3 linked regions of the Homo sapiens genome follow. The protein of the gene in region 3 interacts with the protein of the main gene of each other region in a pairwise test. Each region holds a gene or a part of one and is shown on either strand. Other genes may lie near its edges.

Region 1 (7,512 bases), on a different chromosome or scaffold from region 3:
AAATAATGCAACGTGATGGAATCAACCATCTGTAGAAGTAACAGATGCTAACTGGTAATCTGCACCTAGATGGTTAGGGAAGAATATAATCAGTTATAGGGGTGCCTGCTAAAATCATAACCTGGTCTGTGGCATTAATGCCAAAAATTGTAATCTGATTGATTGAACTGATAGGGATGAGCATGAAGCTGTAATCTTGCCAGTTGTTAACACCATTGTTGAAAGAAGAATGTTTCAAGGATGAGATCTGCTAAGAGCCTAGAAAAAGGCAAATGAAGAGCAGGTAGGACTCTTTCTTAATCTGGTACCATCCAGAGGAGAAGGCTACCAACAGGCCAAAGAGATTATTCTGGTGCCTTGAGAGATCAAGTAATTTATGAGGCAGGGATATTTCATGTGACTCTCCCAGAGATTAGTTGAAATCCACAAAATCATCTCATCTTTTTTTGTTCTTACAGTCCCTCTGCCATGCAACCTCCTTGACATTCATAGTCTTGTCCCTGGAAAGATCTATCCCCCATTATAAATGAGGAGATAGCAAATTTTGATCAGGCTCCTAAGTTTGGTTAGAGTGACTCAGCAGCCCAAAGCCCAGTCAGCTGTTGGCACGCTGATAAAATGGGTGTGTGAGGACCAGCAGCTGCTACTTACTCAATGACTTTCTCTTTGGGTGTCGACTGGCCTCCCAGCAGACATTGCTTTGCCTCTGCAGAACACTCCCACTCAAATTCCCTGATCATATTAGGATGAAATTAGCAGTTTCTTGGTTCAAATTTATGATAAAAGCACACCCATTTAATGATTATTAAAACCTGATATTCATCTATTTTTTTTTAACCTCCAACTACTTCAAAGTAATGTGCAGCTAAGATCTGATCTCCTAAGAGAAAGGTGGGGAGCAGAAATGTCTTAGAATGAAGTAAATTACATAGCCCAGTGCAGGATGGTTGAAGCTTTATCAGAACCACACACTCTTTATTATTCCAAACTTAAGCTGGGATCCATACTCATTATTAAAGTTAGACCTATTCAGAATGTTGCAGAGTACAGAGAAGTGAGCTTAGGGTGATCATTTATTTTCTCTAATATTCAAACCTCAACTCAAAACCTTTAGGATTAAAGGCCTGCCACTGTAAGCCACCCTACTCTCATAGAAAGTGTATAATTATTTAGAAGACACTATATCCTCCAAATGTACATGCTTTCCAAGAGCTGTGTGTCCACACTAGCCTTTTGTCTCTTAACTATAGAAAGCTGAAACTTCAAGGGTTTTGTAATAGGTGCTGCTGCCATGTACATACAGACCTCTAGCCTGTGCTGCTCCGGAGAACGTTCTGCAGTGACGGAAATGTCCTTTATCTGTGCTGGTCAGTGCAGTAGCCACTAGCTACACGTGGCCACTGAGCACTAGAAACAGGGCAGCTGTGACCTAGGAACTGGATGGTTAATTTTAGTTAATTTAAATGTAAATAACCATATGTGGCTAGTGGCTACCGTATTGGACAGTACAGTTCCGGGCAATTTGACTGAAAATTATACCTCCTTTAATTTATTTCTGTTTTCTAACAGGTTCAGAAATCGTTTTGACAGCACATAATTCTTAAATAGAGTACATGCAAATTTGGTCTTTCTTGCATGTCCGAGAACACTTGCCTAAGAAAGATGTGTGATTTTTCTTTAAACCTGGAAATTTTAAGCAGCTTATGCTATCATCTCATAGTAACAATCTAGTGAAGTAATTGTTATATCATAATACCGGCTAGTGTTGCCAGAATAAGCAGGTGAATGTGACCAAGAGGTACTTTTATAAGGGTTTTCAGGGCAAATAGGCAAAGGCAGCCACTCTTATATCAAATGTTGTCATATGGAAGGGAGTACAATTAGGTAACTCGGAATCCTAATTTCAGGGAGTGTAAAAAGAAGAAAACCTTAATTAGGTTAGAGGTTGAAAGCTTAGTCATTAACCTCTTCCTGTTCTTGTTTCAGTCCCAACAGACATTTAAAATTGTTAAGCTTCTTTTTAGAAATGAGTTTTACTAACTTAAGCTTGACCTCGCTGCTGCTGTCTTGTATTTTTGCTCTTAGTGTCCAGTGATGCTGTACTTCCAACTGATAACCTATTGGGATATCATATGCTGAATTATGTTTTCTCAGGCCAGAGGGCAAATTTATATGTTGTTATGGTTTGCAATTCAAGTGTCCAAAACATCGGTTGTTTGGGTTTTTTTTTTTTTCTCCTTGTGATTTAATTTCAGGAAAAGGAGAAGGAATGGCAACGAAGAAGACAACCATCTTCCCCCCCAGACCAAAAGAAGTAGCAGAAACCCTGTCTTTCAGGATTCCTGGGACACAGAGGTAGGAAGTGTGGTCACATAGTCTGTTGTTTTCACTGCTTGAGTTAAATAACCTAGTATCTGCTGTGTAATTAAATTTACTTAAACAGTAATTTAAAATGACCTTAGTTGATTATACTGGTTTAACCTTTCTGTTTCCAAATCAGGGTCCCTTTGAGGAAGCTGTGTACCCTGTCCCCAGCAAAACAGTACATATGTGCACATAGTCATATATGTACACACTCATTTGTATTTGTTAGAAATTTCGTGGCTTTTTGAAAGCCTATGTTTGAACTCACTGTTTTGTATTTCAGCAGCGAACTTCTTTTCTGGTAGTTTATAAACCATGAATTGTCCTTAAGATAAACATATTTTGTTGCTTCAATTCAAATGCCTTTTAAGAGAAACTTTAAGCATGTAAAATATGTAAGGTATGTGTATGCAGAATCCCATTTCTCAGTGTTTTTACTTTTCATTATCTTGTTGTGAAAAGAGCTCCTGTGGTGAGAGGGAAGGGGAGTTGGGTGTTCTGGAACTTTTTTACAATTTTTGATTTCATGAAAGAGTGCTTCAGTACGCAGACTGAGGATACATTTTCTGTGCAATTGGAAGGCTGCTCTGTGCTGGGGAAAGGAAACCAATATAAAGTAATGCTGCTATTAAGTTATGCACCTAGAGATTTTGACCCTTAACAGTTGTCACACTAAGAGAAAAGCCTCAACAACAAAGAGCCCTAGCCTCATAACTCACAGTAGAATTCTCCCACACCCAAATAATTTGTACTTTAATTAGTTCCTGATAATAGGATTTGACCTATATCCAGTCTGTCTTTGCCAGCAATTCAAAGTAACTCCCCCAAGGGGGAAAAATCAGGAACTTTCATGTAGGTAACAGTCATTCAGAGACAGTGAACAAGTGCAGAGTAGAATCCTTCTGTGTGGAGACCTGAGTTTCTATAGCTGTTTTTCCTCTTCAAATATTTTCCTGGCCGAGCGCAGTGGCTCATCCCTATAATCCCAGCCCTTTGGTAGGCCAAGGTGGGCAGATCACGAGGTCAGGAGTTCGAGACCAGCCTGGCCAACATGGTGAAACCCCATCTCTACTAAAAATACAAAAAATTAGCTGGGTGTGGTGGTGCACGCCTGTAATCCCAGCTACTTGGGAGGCTGAGGTGGGAGAATGGCTTGAACCCAGGAGGCAGAGGTTGCAGTGAGCTGAGATCGTGCCGTTTTACTCCAGCCTGGGCAACAGAGCAAGACTCCGTTTCAGAAAAAAAAAAAAAAAAAATATATATATATATATATTATATATATATATATTTTTTTCCTATTTGCTTTTTTCTTTTCTTTTTAAAAAATGATTATCAGAAAGGTAATTGAGCTTTGTTTAATGTAATAGTTGGGAATCTCAGGGATGAAAGAAAACAAGATTAGAGGCTACCATGAATATCTAATGATAAAACCCTGTAATAGTAATTGAGTTTCCATTCTTTTGAATTGTAAGACTATTCATTAAAAGAGTATGCAAAGATTACTTCTATGGTGTTGGCCATCAGTATTTCCTTACTTGTGTCTGTATGTAAGTCCTGCTATATGATGTTCATTTCAGTCAAGGGTATGGTAGGTCTAACTCTCTGTATTAACGTTTTTTTCCCGTATCTGCCAGTTTTGAAGCCTGAGAACAGCAATAGAAATTGCCATCTTTTTCTTGCTTTTGTCTCTTGGTTAAAAAAAAAGAAAGAAATTGTCATCCTTTTTTAAAAAAATTAACATTTCTGATCTCTTAAGTAAGGCAGATATTGTAGATTTTTAAATTTTATTTATTTATTTATTTAGTTTTTGGTACAAAATGACCTTTACTCTCTTTCTAAAATCCGTGCATTGGTCTCACAGAAGAAAACAACGTCTTGTTACTCAACCTCCTGGGTTCTCTAGCTGAGCTTGTCCTTACTTGTCCAAAGAAATTCAGTTGTTGAGCCACTCCGTAATCATTATCTGAAGGAAGGACTAGATTGTCTTCCTTATCGTTTAAGGTCATTACTGGTAGTTTCTGTCTGAACTCACTGGTAGATCACCTAATGGGGTGTTACAACCATTAGTTTCAGCCTTGCTTACTGAACATTGACCAGAATAGCCTGCTGTGCCGTCCTGTGCTGTCCTGTCCTGTCCTATCCTATGCTGTCCTGTCCTGTCCTGTGCTGTGCTGTGCTGTGCTGTGCTGTGCTGTCCTGTCCTGTGCTGTGCTGTGCTGTGCTGTCCTGTCCTGTCCTGTCCTGTCCTGTCCTGTCCTGTCCTGTCCTGTGCTGTGCTGTCCTGTCCTGTGCTGTCCTGTCCTGTCCTGTCCTGTGCTGTGCTGTGCTGTGCTGCGCTGTGCTTCCTGGCAGTGGTATTAACAAGTAACAAGGACAAGTGAATGATGAGAGAGCCAGAGAAGCAAAAGGCAGAGGGAATATCTTTTAAAATGGAAAGTTAAGCCCCAAATAATGAAGTTTTCACTACTGGAATAAATGATTATGTTTGTAGCAGCAAAAAATCAAGTTTAGGGACATTTGGCTGGTTTTTGATGATTGTGTATAAAAGGGAAAATAAAACAATTCATTTTTAATTATATTAACAATTTAGACAAAATATTTTATTAATAACATTACTAATGAAAATGTTTTCTTTTAATTCTGAGGTAGGGCCATGAGGTCAGTTTCCTTGAAACTTAAGTTATGTAAGAGAAACCATTTCCTATGTTTTCCCTGAATGAATAAGCTTTGTCACCCAGACTGGAGTGCAGTGGTGTGATCTCAGCTCACTGCAACCTCTACCTCCCAGGCTCAAGCAATACTCCTACATCAGCCTCCCAAGTAGCTGGAACTACAGGCACATGCTACCATGCTGGGTTAATTTTTTAAGGTTTTTTTTTTTTTTTTTTTTTTGGAGAGACGACGTCTCACTATATGGCCCAGGCTGGTCGTGAACTCTTGGGCTCAAGCGATCCTCCCACCTCAGCCTCCCCAAAATGCTGGGATTACAGACTTGAGCCACCATGCCTGGCTAGAATTCCCTTCCTTCCTTCCCTCTGTTCTCCCCTCCCCTTCTCTCCCCTACCTTCTCATCCCCTCCCCTCCACTTTCTTCTCTTCCCCTCCTTCCTCTCTTCCTTTCTCCCTCCCTCCCTTCTTCCCTCCCTCCTTTCCTTCCTCCCTTTCTTTCTTTTCTTTCTGGCAGGGGCTCCCTCTGTTGCCCAAGCTGAGTGCAGTGGAATGATCATGGTTCACTGTAGCCTCAACCTCCTGGGCTCAAATGATCCTTCCTCTTCAGCCTCCTGAGGTGCTGGGACTACAGGGATGTGCCACCAAACCTGGCTAATTTTTTTAATTTTTTGTAGAGACAGGGTCTTGCTGTGTTGCCCAGGCTGGTCTTGAACTCCTGGCCTCTGACCCTCCTCCACTGGGCCTGGCCAAATTCTTTTTCTTATTTTCTTTTTTTTGTTAACCTGGCTGTTTAAGAATTCTTTTTCTTATAACTTGAACTTCATGAGGAATTTTTTTTTTAATTCTAAGAGAGATTTAAAAGTTACTTACAATTCATTTCTAAAAGTTAACCTTTTTGCTTAAGTACAATAATAATGGCGAGTACTAGGAAATATGTGAGGTGTTTTATTTATGTTAAACCATTAAATTGTGCCACAAGTAAATCACAACTATCTGTACAGTGGAGATAATAGTATCTGCCTCTTCTTTCCTAGATACTATAAAGCTAAATAATGTGAACTGATTTGCCGGATTAGTTATATAGAGAGAAACTTCATGTGTGCATAAATTAATGTGTGCATAAATGGCTTCTTTCCCCCATTTTATTTTTTTATTGTTTATTGTTTTTTGAGAGGGAGTTTCACTCTTGTTGCCCAGACTGGAGTGCAATGGCGCAATCTCGGCTTGCCATAACCTCTGCCTCCTGGATTCAAGCGATTATCCTGCCTCAGCCTCCCGAGTAGCTGGGATTACAGGCATGTGCCACCACACCCTGCTAATTTTGTATTTTTAGTAAAGGCAAGGTTTCTCCATGTTGGTCAGGCTGGTCTTGAATTCCTGACCTCAGGTGATCTACCTGCCTTGGCCTCCCAAAGTGCTGGGATTCCAGGCGTGAGCTACCGTGCCCAGCCTGTTTTAGTAGGTATTATTATCTCCACTTCTCAGATGGAAAACTTGGCACACAGAAAAATAGTCACTTGTCCAAAGAACACAGCTAGTAAGAGGCAGAGGAGGAACGGAGCCCCAGGGTGTGGTTGTTGGGCTGCACGCTCCTGACCATGGTGTGTGCTCTCCCAGAAGATAGAACAGAGGTTCTGCGAGACTTTGCTAAATATATCCAGGAGCAGCTAGAGCCTAGTCTTCTCTTTTTTTTTCTTTTTTTTTTTTTTTGAGACAGAGTTTCGCTCTGTCACCTAGGCTGGAGTGCAGTGGCATGATCTCAGCTCACTGCAACCTCCACCTCCCAGGTTCAAGTGATTCTCCTGCCTCAGCCTCCTGAGTAGCTGGGATTACAGGCACCCGCCAGCTCGCCCAGCAAATTTTTGTATTTTTAGTAGAAATGGGTTTCACGATGTTGGCCAGGCTGGTCTCAAACTCCTGACCTTAGGTGATCCATCCGCCTTGGCCTTCCAAAGTGCTGGGATTATAGGCGTGAGCCACCGCGCCCAGCCCTAGTTTTGTTTTGAGTCAGGAACAGAGAAGAACAATTTTCCTTCTCTTTTTATCTAGAAGCTGTTTTTTCCAAGTACATGGCATGATATGATCTTAGCTATAAAGCAATTTTAGATTTCTAGCAAGAAAAAAAACAAAAATGTGGTCTTGTGTTTTTTTTTTCCAAATCTCTGATTAGTGCTTGAATTGAAGACTTTGAATTTTAACTCCAGTAACTTGGACTTAATGACTTATGAGCCTTAGAATACTATTTTTTTAAGTTGAAGTATTTACTAATTTAATTTTTTTTTTTTTTTTGAGACAGGGTCTTGCTCAGTTGCCTAGGCAGGAGTGCCGTGGTGCTGTCATGGCTTACTGCAGCTGTGAACTCATGGGCTTAAGCACTCCTCCCTGCTCAGCCTCCCAAACTACAGGTGTGCGCCACTACACCTGGCTAGTTTTTTTTTTTTTTTTTTTTTTGAGACAGAGTCTCGCTCTTTCCCCAGGC
Region 2 (7,980 bases), on a different chromosome or scaffold from region 3:
TTCAATTTATGTGTAGTTGAATAAAAAGCTAGTAACAGCAATTCTATTTACCATTAGAATTGAGTATCTTCTCTGAACAAAGTATTGTGTTATGTTTCACACGCGGTTTCTGAGCTAGCCCTCATAACAATCCAAAAAAATGGCCATCATTTCCCCATTTTACTTTGTTAAAAAAAAAAGAGCTTTCCCAAGGCCACCTAGCTAGAGCGTGGCAGAGCCTGACCCTATAACGTGCCCTTCATAATGCAATCATTATTCTCAACTACTGGTTTGTCTTAAGAAATGAGATTATTTCCACAATCTCATGTTTATTGAACACTTCAGTCCAACTCATCATTTTACTGGGCTCTCAAGATGTCCAGAATGGTGAGTGCTAGCATTTCTCCTCCTTTAAGAGGCTGTTTTTGTTATTTAATAAAAATAACTAGCCATGAGGAGATTCAGCTGGTTCCTGTGACCCATATTCAGGGAAACTTTAAGTCTAAAAGCGAGACGAAGAATTCCTGGTGGAACTGTTTTCCTAGAGATAACACAGACATTGGAGATGTGGGGCTAAATACAACAAAGTGATTTCTCAATTAGAAGAATCTCTATACAGTAGGGCCACTGCCCAGGACCCAAGCATGTCCCTGTCATCTTCTTCTGGCTGTTCACAGGCAAGGGTAAGCTGCTAGTGAGTGGGATAGGACAAACTGTGCATTGTCCTAGGAAGACAGCACTTTAAGGATAGGGTGTGGGGGTAGCATATACAAATCAATCTGATTCTCAGAAAGTGCAAGGTTGGACGCTTTGGAAGAAATGAAACTGTCCCAGCTTGTCCCTAGAGGCAGAAGAAGCTCTGAGCCTGCTAAAAGTTATCTATTCCTTCTAATGATGCTCTAATCGAAACTCTTTTTTAATCCAACAACACAGCTGCAAATTGCTTTTATTCTCTTAAGGACTAAAAAAGTCAAGAGAATTGACTTTAAAGAATTATTAGATAAGAAGCCTAAAATAGTCTTTCTTGAAAAATTGAGCTAAAGTAATTTGGTCTTTAAATAAAAATGTAATGATTAGTAGACAGTAAGCGTCTGTTTCTTGACAAGCCTGGATGTATTTCCAATCCCCAGGCCCATTTTCACTTCCCAAATTCGCAATTCTAGAATTCTTCTTACTAGTGTTTAGGAGATTCCTTTGGGGGAACCTTCTGGAACTGAACTAGACTAAAAGAAATGAACAGAATGGTGTGGATGAGTCAATTACTTCCCATTTGTAATGTCAAGTATAATTTGTAGTACAGCTGAAAGCATATGATTCAGTTCATGTTTGATTCCACTGTCACACCTATCCTTGTTTTAAAACAAAGCAAAAAAGGAGGCAGTGAACTTATCTGGTTCCTGATAATACACTTCCATGGCCATGTCCCTATATAGTATGATGCAACAGTCATGACATGGCAATTTATTCTTGATGGCAAATACAGTTAATAGAGGTCAAATATTGTACCTAAAATGTGAAGACTGATATCTTTTTAGTTCACTATTTCCTTCTCAGTTAAAGCAACTGTACTCTCTGCAGTAATCTTTCTTTATCTCATAATGCATACTTCAGACGCTTCAGGTTTTCCTCACATTACTTAGCCATGAAATTTTTACCATCTTTTAACTAAAACAGTGAAGCTTTATTGTTACTACCATGTGGAACATAATTGTATTTCTTCTGGATCTGATTTCCATGGGATGGGCTTGAGGCCCCACTGGACTGACTTCTCCACCTTTGTTGCCCCTCAGATTTTGTCTCCAACCCAATCCCAACTTCAGAAGGAAGGGCTGTTCCAAGACCAGCAGGCACCAGCTCATATGAAGTAGCTGAATCCTATCTCCTAACATAATTGTGCAATTCCAGAAAATAAACCTGGAATAACAATACAGAGTAGTTTAATGAAAAAAAAGAGCCATTTAATATTATTTTCATCAACCTCAAGTTTTTGGCCAGATTGTTTTTTGCCGAGTTCATGAACTACAATAATTTCTGGGCAAAAAGGATCTCTTGCAGATAAGACACTGTATTAAAAGAAACAAGGAAGCTGTTGGAATTCGTTGTTGGAAATATTCCTCACTCATTCCCTTGCAGTGCCTCGGCCTGCCCCCAAGACCAGTTAAACACTGTACTGCCACATCAAAGAAAGTACAGAAGAAGGGGGAAAATTTGCTAATTCTCACCTTGACAGTGAATAGATTTCTTATCACCCCAGTTCCTCCCAGTCTTGCAGACTCAACTGAATGTAGTTTATCGCCTAAAACAAAACAAGGAATAAAAGTGTTAACATACAGAACACTCACAGGAGAATTTAGCTGTTTTTAGTACCTGCCAGACAGCCCAGTTTATCCGGTTTAAAGTACAGTGCTGAGTGTACTCGGTGGGACAAAGGCCAATTTTAGGCCCGCAGGCACTTTCCAAATAAAGGTCATGGGAGCACAATTTATCTCTGCGTGTGCGAGGGCGTGCCCCCGCTTCGCCGCCCGTTAGCAGGTCTTGGGGTTTGCATGTCCTTGCTCTTGGCCTGCACCCGTCCTTATGGCCGTTGTGCAAGAGGGCTGCAATCAAGGCTGGATCGGTACCTCCTTCCAGGTCTCCACGCCCGCCCCTCCCCTCCCCTCCCCTCGCTGGTGCTGGGACCTTTTAAACTCCAGGCACCCGGAACTGGCGGGGGTGTTTCCCCCAGCCCCCTCTCGCCCCGTGTGGCCTAGCGACCCCTCTGAAGGCCGCTGGAGCTCCGCCCCTCCACGCCCCCTGGCGGACGCGAGGGATCGGCTTCAAGGCTATTCCTCGCCGCCTGAGTTGCCTGCAGACGCCCGTCTGCGGCTTACAGCCTTCTTTGCATCCAGCCCCCAGCTGCTGCACGTTTTCTTCCTCCTACACTCCAGGCTTAGTCTTCTACATGCATTCTTGCAACTTCCACCCCTCGATTTTCCAACCCAAGTGCAGACCTGATTTTCCCCTTGTCGTTGCATCCAACTTCCTCACCGCCCAGTTTCTCCCTCCCAGGCCCAAAAGCAGACCTTCTGCATATCCAAGCATCCAGCATCCCCTCCTTCCCTTTTCTTTTCCCATTCTCAATACCTGGATTTGTTCCCTTCTTTGCACGCAGGCCTTGACTCCCTCCACACCCAAGATCTGCGCTTTTTTCCTTTACCCCATTCCTGCCTTCTGCGGAATTAGAGCCACCCCTCCACAGCCAGGGACCGGGGCCGCCCCTTGGAGCCTGAGGTTACCTGCCGGGATGATATGCTGGCGAAGAGTTGGGGCGCCACAGCCGCTCACAAGCTCAGACTCACAACCACAGCCTGGCAATCCCAAACCGGACTCCCAGTGCCTCCGCTTCTGAAGTAGACTCTGCAGAAACCCGGGACCACAGGGTAGGTCCGAGCTTTTCCTCTTCCCGGCTTTGTCCCCTCCCAGGCCCCGCCTCCTCAGCCCACCTCCCCCAGCCCCGCCCCCGACACGCCTCCAATCGCCACACGCCAATTCCCGTGGGATGGGCGGAGTCAGCGAGAGGGGCGTGGCCACAGTCAAAGATGGAGAATCCATGGTGCCACTTTCCCGGTGATCCCGGTGGGGGAAGGGGTTGCCGCCCGGCAGAGATTCAGTCCCGAATCCCGACAGCGAAGAGACTTGTATGCCACCTGCAGGCCGGGGAGCGGGGCGCGCTGGGGCTGCACCACCCCGAACTTTGTAACAATCTAGAGCACCACAGAGTGTTTCCAGGTCGGCACAAAAGCGAACGGGACAGGGCGCCCTGGGCGGCGGCAGCTTGGCCGGCCCGCTGCCTAGCGCGCCCCCGAGGGGCGGTAATGGAACGTACCTTTGGCTGAAGAAAGAGTGCTCCCGGCCAGCGCGGGGTCGCCTAGGGGGTTCCGCGCTGCCTAATGCAAAGGATGGAAAAGTTACAGAAGCAGGTCCTGACACCACCTATGTCTAGGTCTTTAGAAACTCCATTGATTGTTTGCATTAGAAGATAATGAATGGGATTCTTATTATTTTCTTTTTTAAGACAGGGCCTTGCTCTGTTGCCCTGGCTGGAGTGCAGTGGAGCGATCACCGCTCACTGCAGCCTTGACTTCCTGGGCTCAAGAGATCCTCCCACCTCAGCCTTCCGAGTAGCTGGGATTACAGGTGCACACAATCACACTCAACTAATTTTTCTTTCTTTCTTTTCTTTTCTTTTTCCTTTGGTAGAGATGGGTTTCAGCAGCCCAGGCTGGTCTCGAACTCCTGGACTCAAGTGATTGGCCCTCCTCGGCCTCCCAAAGTCCTGGGATTACAAGCGTGAGCCACCATGCTCAGTTGGCGGGGGATTATCTGTGATCCAATGAAGTTGGACTAGAGATGTGAAGCCTTAGAAAACGGTGGATTGAAAAAAGAATTTTAGTCTCCTCCAGAGATTATATTTTGTGTGTTCATTGCTCTCAAAAACATGAAAATAAAGAGTATTTTATATTGTGATTTGTAGGACAATAGCATGCTTGTATATTGCTGCCCAGAATTTAATGCTCCAATATTTATTTATTTATTTATTTATTTATGAGACAGAGTCTTGCCCTGACAGGCTGGTGCAGTCTCGGCTCACTGCAACTTCCGCCTCCTGGGTTCAAGTGATTCTCCTCTTTCAGCTTCCCAAGTAACTGGGACTACAGGTGTGCCACCATGCTAAGCTAATTTTTGTATTTAGTAGAGACGGTGTTGCACCATGTTGGCCAGGTTGGTCTCGAACTCCTGACCTCAAGTGATCCGCCTGCCTCGGCCTCCCAAAGTGCTGGAATTACAGGCGTGAGCCACCGTGCCCAGCCTCCAAAATTTATTTTAAAAAATTATCTCTAACATTGAATTAGTACATTATTCTTTGAAGATAAACTGATCTACGTGGTACTACTCAAGGTGCACTTTGGACACCAGAGGGCACTGGTATTTTTCCCGAGAGAAAAGAAAAAAGCATACACCTTGTCAACTTGGTTTTTGAGGTGGCTTAAGGGATATTGGCAGCCACCTCCATTTATTCCTGTAGAACTGTTTAGAGAGGTATATGAGCTTTTTGAAGGGGGTCTGACCCTCCACACCTGTGGGTATTTCTCATCAGGTGGAGCCGAGAGACTGAGAAAAGAAATAAGACACAGAGACAAAGTATATAGAAAGAACAGTGGGCCCAGGAGACTGGCGCTCAATGTGCAAGGACCCGCACCAGCGCTGGTCTCTGAGTTCCCTCAGTATTTATTGATCACTATTTTTACTATCTTGGCGAGGGGAGTGTGGCAGGGCAACAGGGTGATGGTGGGGAGAAGGTCAGCAGGAAACATGTGAGCAAAGGAATCTGTATCATGAATAAGTTCAAGGAAAGGTACTACGCCTGGATGTACACATAGGCTAGATTTATGTTTCACTTTACACAAACATCTCAGTGTAGCAAAGAGTAACAGAGCAGTATTGCTGCCAGCATATCTCGCCTCCAGCCACAGGGCGGTTTTCTCCTATCTCAGAATAGAACGAATGGTCAGCTTTACACTGAGACATTCCATTCCCAGGGACGAGCAGGAGACAGAAACCTTCCTCTTAACTGCAAAGAGGCCTCCCTCTTTCACTACTCCTCCTCAGCACAGACCCTTCACGGGTGTCAGGCTGGGGGATGTAAGGCCTTTCCTTTCCCACAAGGCCATATCTCAGGCTGTCTCAGTTGCGGGAAAGCTTGGACAATACCCAGGCTTTCTTGGGCAGAGGTCCCTGCGGCTTTCCACAGTGCATTGTGTCCCTGGTTAACAGAGAATGGAGAATGGTGATGACTTTTACTAGGCATACTGCCTGCAAACATACTGTTAATAAGGCACATCCTGCACAGCCCCAAATCCATTAAACCTTGATTCAATACAGCACATGTTTCTGTGAGCACAGGGTTGGGGCTAAAGTTACAGATTAACAGCATCTCAAAGCAGAATAATTGTTCTTAGTACAGATCACAATGGACTTTCTTATGTCTTCCATTTCTACATAGACACAGTAACAATCTGATCTCCCTTTCTTTTCTCCACTCTTAATTTTCATCTTGAATCTGATGCCCTAAGACACCTGAGACTGTAATTACTTTATATTATATCAGGTTCACATTGCTTATTACCCCTTTCTCCCTACCGAAAGTAAGCATTCATATCCTTTCTTGTTCCCAAAATAATGTAGGGCAGCCATAAAAACACATCAAATATAGCACAATAAAAACATTGACTATAATTGAGAAAAATAAGGTTAAAAAATGAATAGCTATAGGATGTTATATAGAACCAAGGCAAATTCAATCATCAAACATGTTATATCAAATCCTAAACACTTGCTAGAGATGGCTGCAAATTTGGCTTTAAGCCAATGTACTAGTAAAGGTGGCAGTTATTGGAGTCTCAGCATCTAAAACAGTGTTTCCTAAGCCAGTAATGGAGGAGTTGATTTTCCACTGAAAAATCTGGCTGGGTGCAGTGGCTCAAGTCTGTGATCTCAGCACTTCGGGAGGCCAAGGCAGGAGGATTGCTTGAGGCTAGGAGTTTGCAACCAGCCTGGGCAACATAGGGAGACCCTCTTTATACAAAACAAACAAACAAACAAACAAACAAAAATTAGACAGGCAAGCTTGCGCCTATAGTTCTACCTACCTGGGAGGCTTAAGTGGGAGGATCACTTGAGCCCAAGAATTCGAGGCTGCAGGCTCCAGTGAGCTATAATTGCACCACTGCACTCTAACTGGGGCAACCAAGCGAGATCCTATCTCTTAAAAAAATTATTTTTCAGATCCCTAGGATTGACATTAAAATATTGCTATAAATATGCATAAAACTAGATATATGCTCCTTAGGCTGACAGCTCATACAACTGTAAAATAAAAAAATTTATAGATAAAATGACTAGAAAGAAAAGTAGAAAACAATACATCACCATTAATATCACTTAAATACAACAAATAACATTTAGCTGAAATTAAATTACTTCTTGAAATGGGAAGATGAAGTTCACTGGTTATGTGCAGGTTCTTTTTTTTTTTTTTTTTGAGACAGAGTCTCGCTCTGTCACCCAGGCTGGAGTGCAGTGGCGCAATCTCAGCTCACTGCAAGCTCCACCTCTCGGGTTCACGCCATTCTCCCGCCTCAGCCTCCCGAGTAGCTGGGACTACAGGCACCCACCACCACGCCTGGCTAATTTTGTTTTTGTATTTTTAGTAGAGATGGGGTTTCACCATGTGAGCCAGGATGGTCTCGATCTCCTGACCTCGTGATCCACCAGTGTTGGCCTACCAAAGTGCTGGGATTACAGGCGTGAGCCACCGCACCTGGCCATGTGCACGTTCTTTTTTACATAGCCGGCCTATTTTACTGGATGACATATGATGGTTCATTTAGCCCAGCACCCCTCTCTATTTGGTTAATATTTCATGTGTTGACATCATTTGTCTTTCATTTAGCCAGTAAAAGAATCTGAGTATTTTAATAGTCTGGCCCCAAATACTGTTATAAACACAAATGGAAACACAGGCCATGAAATTTCTGTAAGCATTTGGTTTTGACACACTCATCCAGATAATGGGATTCTCATAAATATTCTAATGTGGTTGTATTTTCATTTTGATTATCGAAAAAAAACTGAGGTAGAATGAATAGAGCTTGGTCATTGATTGTCCATGAAGATTATGAGAGAGAGAACGGCAAAAGGGAATTCTGAATTTGGAGTTTGGGAGACAAGGTGCAGTTCAACAAAGAAGGAATATACATAGAGTCACAGATCTGATGGCCAAGATCATGGGTTAAGTTTAAGGTTTCTTAACTTTGCGATGCCATGGGACAGCAAGATGATGTCCAGGAGGCAGTTGGCCTCATCTGCAGTTCAGAAAGGGTGGGCTGGAGAAAGAAATTTGGGAATCTTTAGCATGTCTTGATAACAGTTGAAGACAGAGTATATATTATCTAGGACTTC
Region 3 (7,767 bases):
GACAGAGCCGGAGGGCTGCCCCGCCCCCATGCCTTTCATTCTGCTCTGGGATGTTAATGAGTCACCAGTTGGGTCACTCATTAAATGGGGAGCCAAGATGCTCCACTTTGCTGCCCCAAGGGTGACCCTGAGAGTGTGTGTGTGTGTGTCCTGTGTCCACTCAGCCTCAGTCTCCCTTTTCCAAGCTGAAAGGTCCAGGTCTCCATGCCCATGGCTTCTGTCTGGGCAGGAACTTGGAATGCCCATCTACCCACAGTGCTCCCAGTGCGGATGGGAAATCCCCAGGACAAAAGCTCCTGGGGGACCAACTCCTTTGAAGACTCGGTGGGGCTGGGGAGGAGGCTTCCTGACATAGCACAAGGACAGGATACTAGGGAAAAGGGTGAGTCACACATAGCTCAATAGAGCAGTGACCCCCTTCCCCATCACCAGCAGCTGGCCAGATGTGCACTCAGCCTTCAAAGAAGCTGGAGCCACATCAGATTCCATTCTGCCCTCCAATCTGACAGCCACTGCCACACAGGCCATCTGCTCCACGGCTTCAGGGTTGCCCTCAGGCCTCCTCCCCAAGCCCCAGCAGTAGCAGTGGCCCCAAGGACAAGCCCCAGTTCCCTCTCTGGGGCCTCCAATTTGGACAGTCTCTGTTCCTGGGATACTTCCACACTCCCTCTCTCCCTTCGGGCCATTATCCTCCTCTACATCATGCAACAGCACAGGAGAGATGACAGGGCAAAGGGAAGGATAGAAGGAATCCTGGTGGAGGCTGCGATCCCACTGCTCTGGTAGATCCCAACTTGTAGTCATCCTTGAAGAAGACCGAACATTTGAAATCCTGGTGGAAGACCCTCAGGACTCTGGCTGCCTGGGGACCACTGTATTTCTGGGAAGATTCTACTGCTGCCATCCCAAAAACCTGGACAGGCTCCCCATCTCCCGGGACTGCCTCCCTCCTCGGAGCCTTGAAGGTGCAGTATAAGATAAGCAAAGGGTCCAAGGGGAGGGAGGTGGGGAGAGGAGGGAAGGCCCAGAGATCTAAAAATGTCTGGAAGGAGCGGGGAGATCTGAGTCTCACCCTAAAATGAAGGGGATATCTTGGGGCCTAGAATAAACCCCAAGACACCTCCCTCCCAGCTCTGGCTCCTTCCCTGCCAGAACTGGAGCCTCAAAGGCAGAGCAACCATATAATTTATTGCACAAACAAGGACACTTATAAGAGTAAAATGGGCACTACTAATTATTATGCCAGGACAATAGGCATATGGCCACCCTACTCAAAAGCCACCTCTGATCCAGACCAGTGATGCTGGAGCTCAGACCACAGCAGAGGCCAACAGCCTTCCTTCCCTGAGGAGGCAGCTGAAGAGCCCACTCCCAGCCATGCCACGTGGCAGGTACCATCTTGACAGCCCCCACCCCCACCAGCCAGAACCTCAAAGGACTGGGAGGGGCTTCTCAAGCAAGCTCCAAATAACTGGTTTGGGATTCCTCAGGCAGCCCGCTAGGCCCGCAGCAGCTTAGCGCCTGCTCCTGGTGGTGACGTGGCAGGCAGGAGGCTGAACTATCTCCACCGGCCGGCAGAGGGGGGCTTCCAGCCTGGGAAGCAGGCCTGACTCAGGTCCCAGGGGGTGCCACATATTTGCCAGGGGACTCCAGGAGCCTTCTTGGCCTTAGTTCCCTTCCCATCCGCACATGAATCTCTGAAGGGAAATGCGCTACTGGGGAGAAGGGCAGCCCCACTGAACCCAGCAGCAGGAATGGGGGAAGGCAAGTTACTGCAAGCAGGCCAGCCTCCCACAGCCCAGCCCATCTTGCCACAGAGAAATGCCAGCCCTCAGGCCAAGGTTAGCTGAGTTACAGTCCCACAAAGAAAATACAAGATCACCTAGCCAGGGCTGTGCCCACAGCTAGCTGGACTGAGCAGGGTCTGGAAGGGAAGGGGAGGAGATGATGGGACCCCACCAGAGGGTCCCAAACACTTGAGAGGTCTAAAGTACCTGGAAACTGCCTCAGAGGGAGGTCAATGCCTGCCTTTTTCATTCTGAAAGAAAACAGAAGAGTGAAGAGGGCGGGAGCCGGCAAAGGAGAGATGGTGAGGAGGCCCCTGGCGCAGAGGGCACAACCAGTCCCCAATCTACAGGGACCTTGGAGATCGACCACCTCACTGTAAAATGGGAGAAACAAGGCCAGGGCAGGGGGTCACCCCAGGTCCCTCGGGATAAACAGGGGTCTGCCTTCCCAGCACAGGGGTCCTTCCTCACAGAAGCACAGAGCCCCTCCTGAGGGCTGCATGCGGTGTCCTGTTACACAGCCAGTACAAAAAAAAAATCTCTGCTGGGAGTCCCGGTGACAGAGGAGACAAAGGAGAGGACGGGAAGGGGGGATGGGTACATGAACCATCTGAAGACAGGAGGGTGTGGCCCCGGCCGGAATTCCGGAGAACCAAAGCCCCCTCATTTTCCTCAGGCCTCCATCCGGGCCGTACAGCCCAGAGGGACCAGCGGGAAACAAGGAAGAGGAGGGGCTGAGACTCTGGGCCAGTCTGGAAGTGCATTCATTCTCCTTCCTGCTCTTCAGCCACCTCAGGAATGTCTCTAAGCTGGGGGGCAGGGAACCCCAGCCTCTGGAAGTTAGACCCTGCAGTTTAAACCCTGCAGTTACTCCAAGAACCCTGTGGCAGTGGACAGAAGGAAAGACTCAAATCCTTCTAGTCAGCCCCTTAATCCCCAGAGCAGAGCAGACCCTGCTGACCCCCACTCTCTTTTTTCGGAGTGGTAGGGAGCCTCGCTGGCCAAGTCTTTCCTTTGGCTGCCATCATCTAGGCTGCAAGCTGCTGATCAGAAATTGAGCCACTGTCGCCCACTTCTACCAGAGCACACGGACCCCAGGAGTCGAGACGATTTCACCTCCTTTCCCACCACCGGAAGCTCAAATTCCCTCAGCAAGCCTGTGAGGAGGCTGGGCCACCAATCACCGCTGCCCCTGAGCCTCAACCCCAGAACGGAAGTGACCTGGAACTGCGAGGCCGGCCTATCCTCCCTACCCTTGCGGGAAGAGGCACCAGACCCATCTCCTTCCTCCTCTGTTTCTTTCCGCAGAGGCTCTGCTCTCTGCCCCCAGCCCCCTTTACACAGCACCTAGTCTCGTATCTGCCACCACCACCTTTTAGGGGTCCCTGCACTTTTTCCCAGTCCTCCGAGTGCACGGACTCCCAACCCGGCTCCGATCTCCGCCCTAGCCCTCAGCTGGCACCATCACTGGCTAGCCCTGGGCTCTCGATTCCAAACCCTCCAGCGGCCCCCAAAGTGCCGAGGACTCCAATTTGTAGGCTCTGGCTCGGCACCCAACGCTTCGCAGGGTCCCCTCGCCCCTCTTACTCCCTCGCGCACCCCCAGATTGCTCGGCGCTCCCCCGGGCCGCACGCACGCAGGCGTCTCCCGCCCCTCACCTGGGTCGGGCTGGGCTAGCGCCGGGACGTGACTCTCGCTCTCGAGCCGCGACACGATTCTACTCTTAGCCCGCTCCCCTGCTCCCGGGATCTATATATGGCAGTCCCCACCCCCTCCTGCCCGTCCCGAGAAACTTCTGGAAAGTTGGAAACGCTTCCGGAGGGCGCCCCAGCTCCGCCAAAAAAAGCCAAAGACCTCCCTCAAAACCTCCCCGGCCCCCGGCCCCTCCCTCTGCCGGCGCCTCCCGGCCCCTGGGTCCTACTGCCTCCCTCGGCGGCCCGGGCTGCGGGGCGCCGGGAGTCCCCACGGGGATCAGCGTGTCCTTCAGAGTGCGAGCTTCCTCCCACCCCCAGGCTCTCTGCATAAGCTAGCCCACTCCGAATCGCACGTCCTTTCAGGCGCCCCTTTCCCCGCAGGGGCTCTGCCCCAAGCAGAGCCATCTCCCCTTCTCCCCGCTCTCCCCCATTTTCAAGCTGAAACAATTGAGTCCTGTGCACCCCCTCCCTCTCAGGGGAGACGTTCAGGCTTCTGAAGGCAGTGCCCTTCTCCATACTTGTACATTCAAAAAACCTCAACCTCAGCGATGGCCAGAGGGAGAGGGAGCAGACCAGACCCGGTACCTGCCCGGCACCCGGAAAGTTCAAGTCGTGGAGTAATAGAGGCAGAGATGCCTGGGGAACTTCAGGTGGTCTGGCTGGGCTTGGAGGAGTGCACAGGAAGGAAAACCTGGCTCTCCACTGAGCAAGGTGCTGTGTGACCCTAAGCAGGTTACTTTCCCTTTCTGGGCCTCTGTTCCCTTGGCTGTGAAATGTGGTTCTAAGGCATCCCTTGCTTTTTTTCCCCCCTCTCTCCCTTCCTCAATCCTTGTCACCCCTGGCCCCCTCCCTATTGCATCCCCTCCCTCTTTGGGTCCCCTCCCACAGGCCTCAGGTCTCACTGTCAATTCCTACCCCACCCTCGCAAACTGATAGCTCCTTGACCTCCAAGTTAAGCTAGGGTATTCATTACTGTTCTAGGTGCTGAGGACACAGCTGAGAGCTGAACAAAGTCCTTGCCCTGTGCGATGTCCATCTGTGGGGTATGTACCTGTTAGTAGGGAATTCAGTGATTCAGTGAGGCAGATTATTTAGGAAACCCTAAATAATCTGGGCGACAGTGGCTCAATTTCTGATCAGCCGAGGCTCCCTACCCTCCGAAAAGTCCTCTTTAGTAGTTTAATGATAGCTATTGGATGGACGCAGTATGGAGAGGAAGGGACAGGGTAGGGACTCTTCATTCATTCAGTCATGAATGAATGCATTGAGTATCTTCTTTCTTCTAGGTGCTTGCCTGGATCCTGGGGAGCAAAAAAATCCCAGTACCCAGCAAATGAGTCAATCACCTGGGTCCCTGCCCTCTGTTAGTGGTTGTGGGGAAGCCTGGTGGTGGTGACAAACCTCTCTGTCTGGGTAGGCTTCTGCAGCTCAGAGTCTTTTGAGTACAAGGACTGTGGGAAATCTCAGATCCCAAAAGCTTCAGACTCTGTGATTCAGGGTCAAGGAATCAGAGATTACTTCCACTCAAAGCCCCCAAGGAGTCTTTGAATCCAGCTAAGGAATCTTAACATGTTAAAATCTCAGAGTCGAAGGATTCTGGAATAAATGTATTAAAGACTCTGAGCTGCAAGGCATCTCAGAGGTCAGGGGTTCCTGTCTGCAGCCCCAGGCAGAAGCCCTCTTCTCAGTATCCCAAAAAGGCAAGCACCGAGGCACCTCTAAGAAGAGAGAGCTTACCTCCTTCAGAGGCAGCCCCGCATTCTTTTTTAGGACAGGTCTGATTATTAACAAAAGCTTCCAGCCTTGGCATGGTGTCCATCTCTTTGGGGTGGCTGTCGTGGTTCTCATGTGCTTCCTCCTGCCTCAACTGTATATTGCTTTTAAAGATAAATTCTAGGCTGGGCGCGGTGGCTCATGCCTGTAATCCCAGCACTTTGGAAGGCCGAGGTGGGTGGATCACCTGAGGTCAGCAGTTCAAGATCAGCGTGGCCAAAATGGTGAAACCCCATCTCTAATAAAAATATGAAAATTAGCCAGCTGTGGTGTCATGTGCCTGTAATCCCAGCTACTCAGGAGGCTGAGGCGGGAGAATCTCTTGAACCTGGGAGGTGGAGTTTGCAGTGAGCCGAGATCATGCCACTGCACTCCAGCATGGGTGACAGAGCGAGACTCCATCTCAAAAAAAAAAGATAAATTCTTGTTTATCCAAGGAGACCTCCCGGGTCCCAGGCCAGACCCCACTCTCTACTCCCACCCCCACATTGGCCCTCAGGCTTCCTTGTGACTTGGTCAGTGAGCTGAGGGCAGGGCAGAGCAGAAACAAAGAGTGCCCATCAATGCTGGCAAAACAGAGAGGGTCGCCTGGGTTTTCAGCAGGTTCAGATGTCACAATCCCAGTGAGACTCCCTTCCTCTACTCTCTTACATCTCTTAGCTCTTTTAGGCTTCACCAACACCTGAGGGGGAGACTGAGAGTGCTGTGACTGTCCCATTTTGAGGGATAAACCAAAGCTCATGCTGTTAAATAGACCCAGTATCATGAGTGGTCACTGAAGAGAGGACCTGCCCTTACAGACAGCAAAGCTGAGGCCTAAGGAGGGCTGGGTCTGAAGGCCCAACCCCCATCCGACCCCCACTAATCTCACACCGGGTCAGAAGCCTCCTCTGTGACCTATCCCACTGCTGCATTATCTCTGTTATCACCCTGTATTGTCAGTGAACCATCACTGGAGACTTTGGAAGGGCAGGGCCTTTTCCTTGTCACTGTGAGTCCCCAGCTCCAGCAAGGGGACAGTATGGAAGAGGCACTGGGTAAGCATGGCTGGCCAGGGGATGAGAAGTGGCTGCCTGAGGCTGCTGTGCCCCTAGCACAGCCTCCCTGAAGAAGGGAAAGCAACGGCTCCTTTAAATTTCCAAGATCAGCAAAAAAAAAAAAAGTCAAGAGCCTTTGCCACAATATTCTTAGCTCTGAGCCCAGCCCAGACTGACTGTGGCCCTTCCCCCACATTCCAGGCAGAGCTTTCCGGAAAAAGCACTCTTTTAGGGGGTGGGGGAGAAGAGTCTGATAAGCAGAGAAACTCTCAAGCATTTTGTCTCTGGACTCCTCCAGTGCCTCGCTTCACTGAAGGAAGTGGTCCTGGTGCCTGGCACGTGGAGGCTGGCTGGAAATCCTCTAGATCCCTAGGTCCCGAGAGGTGTGGACAGCAGAAAGTAGAAAACCATCAAGTCCAACTGCATCCACACTATACAGAGAGGACAACGGAAGCCCAGAGAGGGCAGGAATTTACCCAAGGTCACACAGCATATCAGAGGTGGGGCTGGGCTGGAGCCTAAGCCCTGGACTCCCAGCCCTCTTTCTCCCACAGTACCCTCTAATGACCCAGGGGGGTATGTAGGCCCAGTTCTGCCAGGTGCTGTGGAAACAGCTTTCTTTGGCCCCAGTGGCTAGATTCACTCAGTCTTCACCCCATAGAATCCTAGGACAAAAACTTGCATGTCATTTAAGTGTGCAACACATTCACATTTATTATCATATTTATTCCTTTCAGGTAAGGAAGAATGTTCCAATTTTCAGCATGAAGAAACTGAGGATCAGGGAGACTAAGCAACAGGGTTAAGGGCACACAACAAGCCAGAGTCAGAGCTGGGTTTTGAATCAGGTCTGTTTATGCCATATCCACGGGAAGGCAGGGAGTGGACGAGAAGGAAGTGACATTTATGGGCCATTTTGCCGCTGCCAGGCCTGTGCTGGGCACCGTCATTAGTGTCTCACTTTTAATTATAGAACGTTAATCGGAAGGAAGTTTAATCCCCTTCTTTTTACATTGGTATAAAATTGGAGCCCAGAAAGCTCCGACAGCCAGTCCAGGGTCGGCCCCCTCCCTCAGGGAGCCAGGGCTGCTATAGGCAGCTCTTCTTTGAGATGCTGTCCAGGAGCCAAGAATGTGCTCTCAGCCCAAGGCATGAGTCAGGAAAACACGATTTCTGTAATCTTGGATTCTCTCTCTTGGAGCGTGGGGCCTTCCATCCAAAAAGGGCTGTCCTGCGTGCTGCCACGTTGGAGGGTGGGCAGCCGGTCCATGTGGGGGTGGGTGGGCACATGATTCCTCCCCTCCTCCTCCCAGAGCAGGCCCGCCCCTACCCGTCTGCAATCCTGGTGCTGAGCGAAGCCACATAGGAACTCCAGCGCCTTCACCCACATGCCTGGCACAATACCCAGGAGACACAAGCCCACTGACTCGCTATATACACAGGCGTATGTGCACCCACATACATGGTGCACACACG

The links. The genes of interacting proteins can lie anywhere in the genome.
Region 1: the proteins of SERPINH1 (region 3) and VCF1 interact in binary tests that used the Homo sapiens proteins (3 or more experiments, as listed by UniProt).
Region 2: the proteins of SERPINH1 (region 3) and IDH1 interact in binary tests that used the Homo sapiens proteins (3 or more experiments, as listed by UniProt).

What each region holds. Positions count from the first base shown.
Region 1 is NC_000017.11:73,222,008-73,229,519, reverse strand, and holds part of VCF1 (protein VCF1), read left to right. Parts: exon of another isoform or gene 1-272; coding exon of another isoform or gene 273-283; intron 284-1,806; exon of another isoform or gene 1,807-1,864; coding exon of another isoform or gene 1,865-1,884; intron 1,885-2,255; coding exon 2,256-2,355; intron 2,356-7,512.
Region 2 is NC_000002.12:208,251,685-208,259,664, forward strand, and holds the start of IDH1 (isocitrate dehydrogenase [NADP] cytoplasmic), read right to left. Parts: upstream 3,388-7,980; 5' UTR 3,255-3,387; intron 2,775-3,254; exon of another isoform or gene 2,659-2,774; intron 2,620-2,658; exon of another isoform or gene 2,347-2,619; intron 2,276-2,346; 5' UTR 2,202-2,275; intron 1-2,201. UniProt on the Homo sapiens protein: Catalyzes the NADP(+)-dependent oxidative decarboxylation of isocitrate (D-threo-isocitrate) to 2-ketoglutarate (2-oxoglutarate), which is required by other enzymes such as the phytanoyl-CoA dioxygenase.
Region 3 is NC_000011.10:75,557,998-75,565,764, reverse strand, and holds the start of SERPINH1 (serpin H1 isoform 1 precursor), read right to left. Parts: upstream 3,513-7,767; 5' UTR 3,446-3,512; exon of another isoform or gene 3,387-3,445; intron 3,293-3,386; exon of another isoform or gene 2,749-3,292; intron 2,039-2,748; exon of another isoform or gene 1,995-2,038; intron 1-1,994.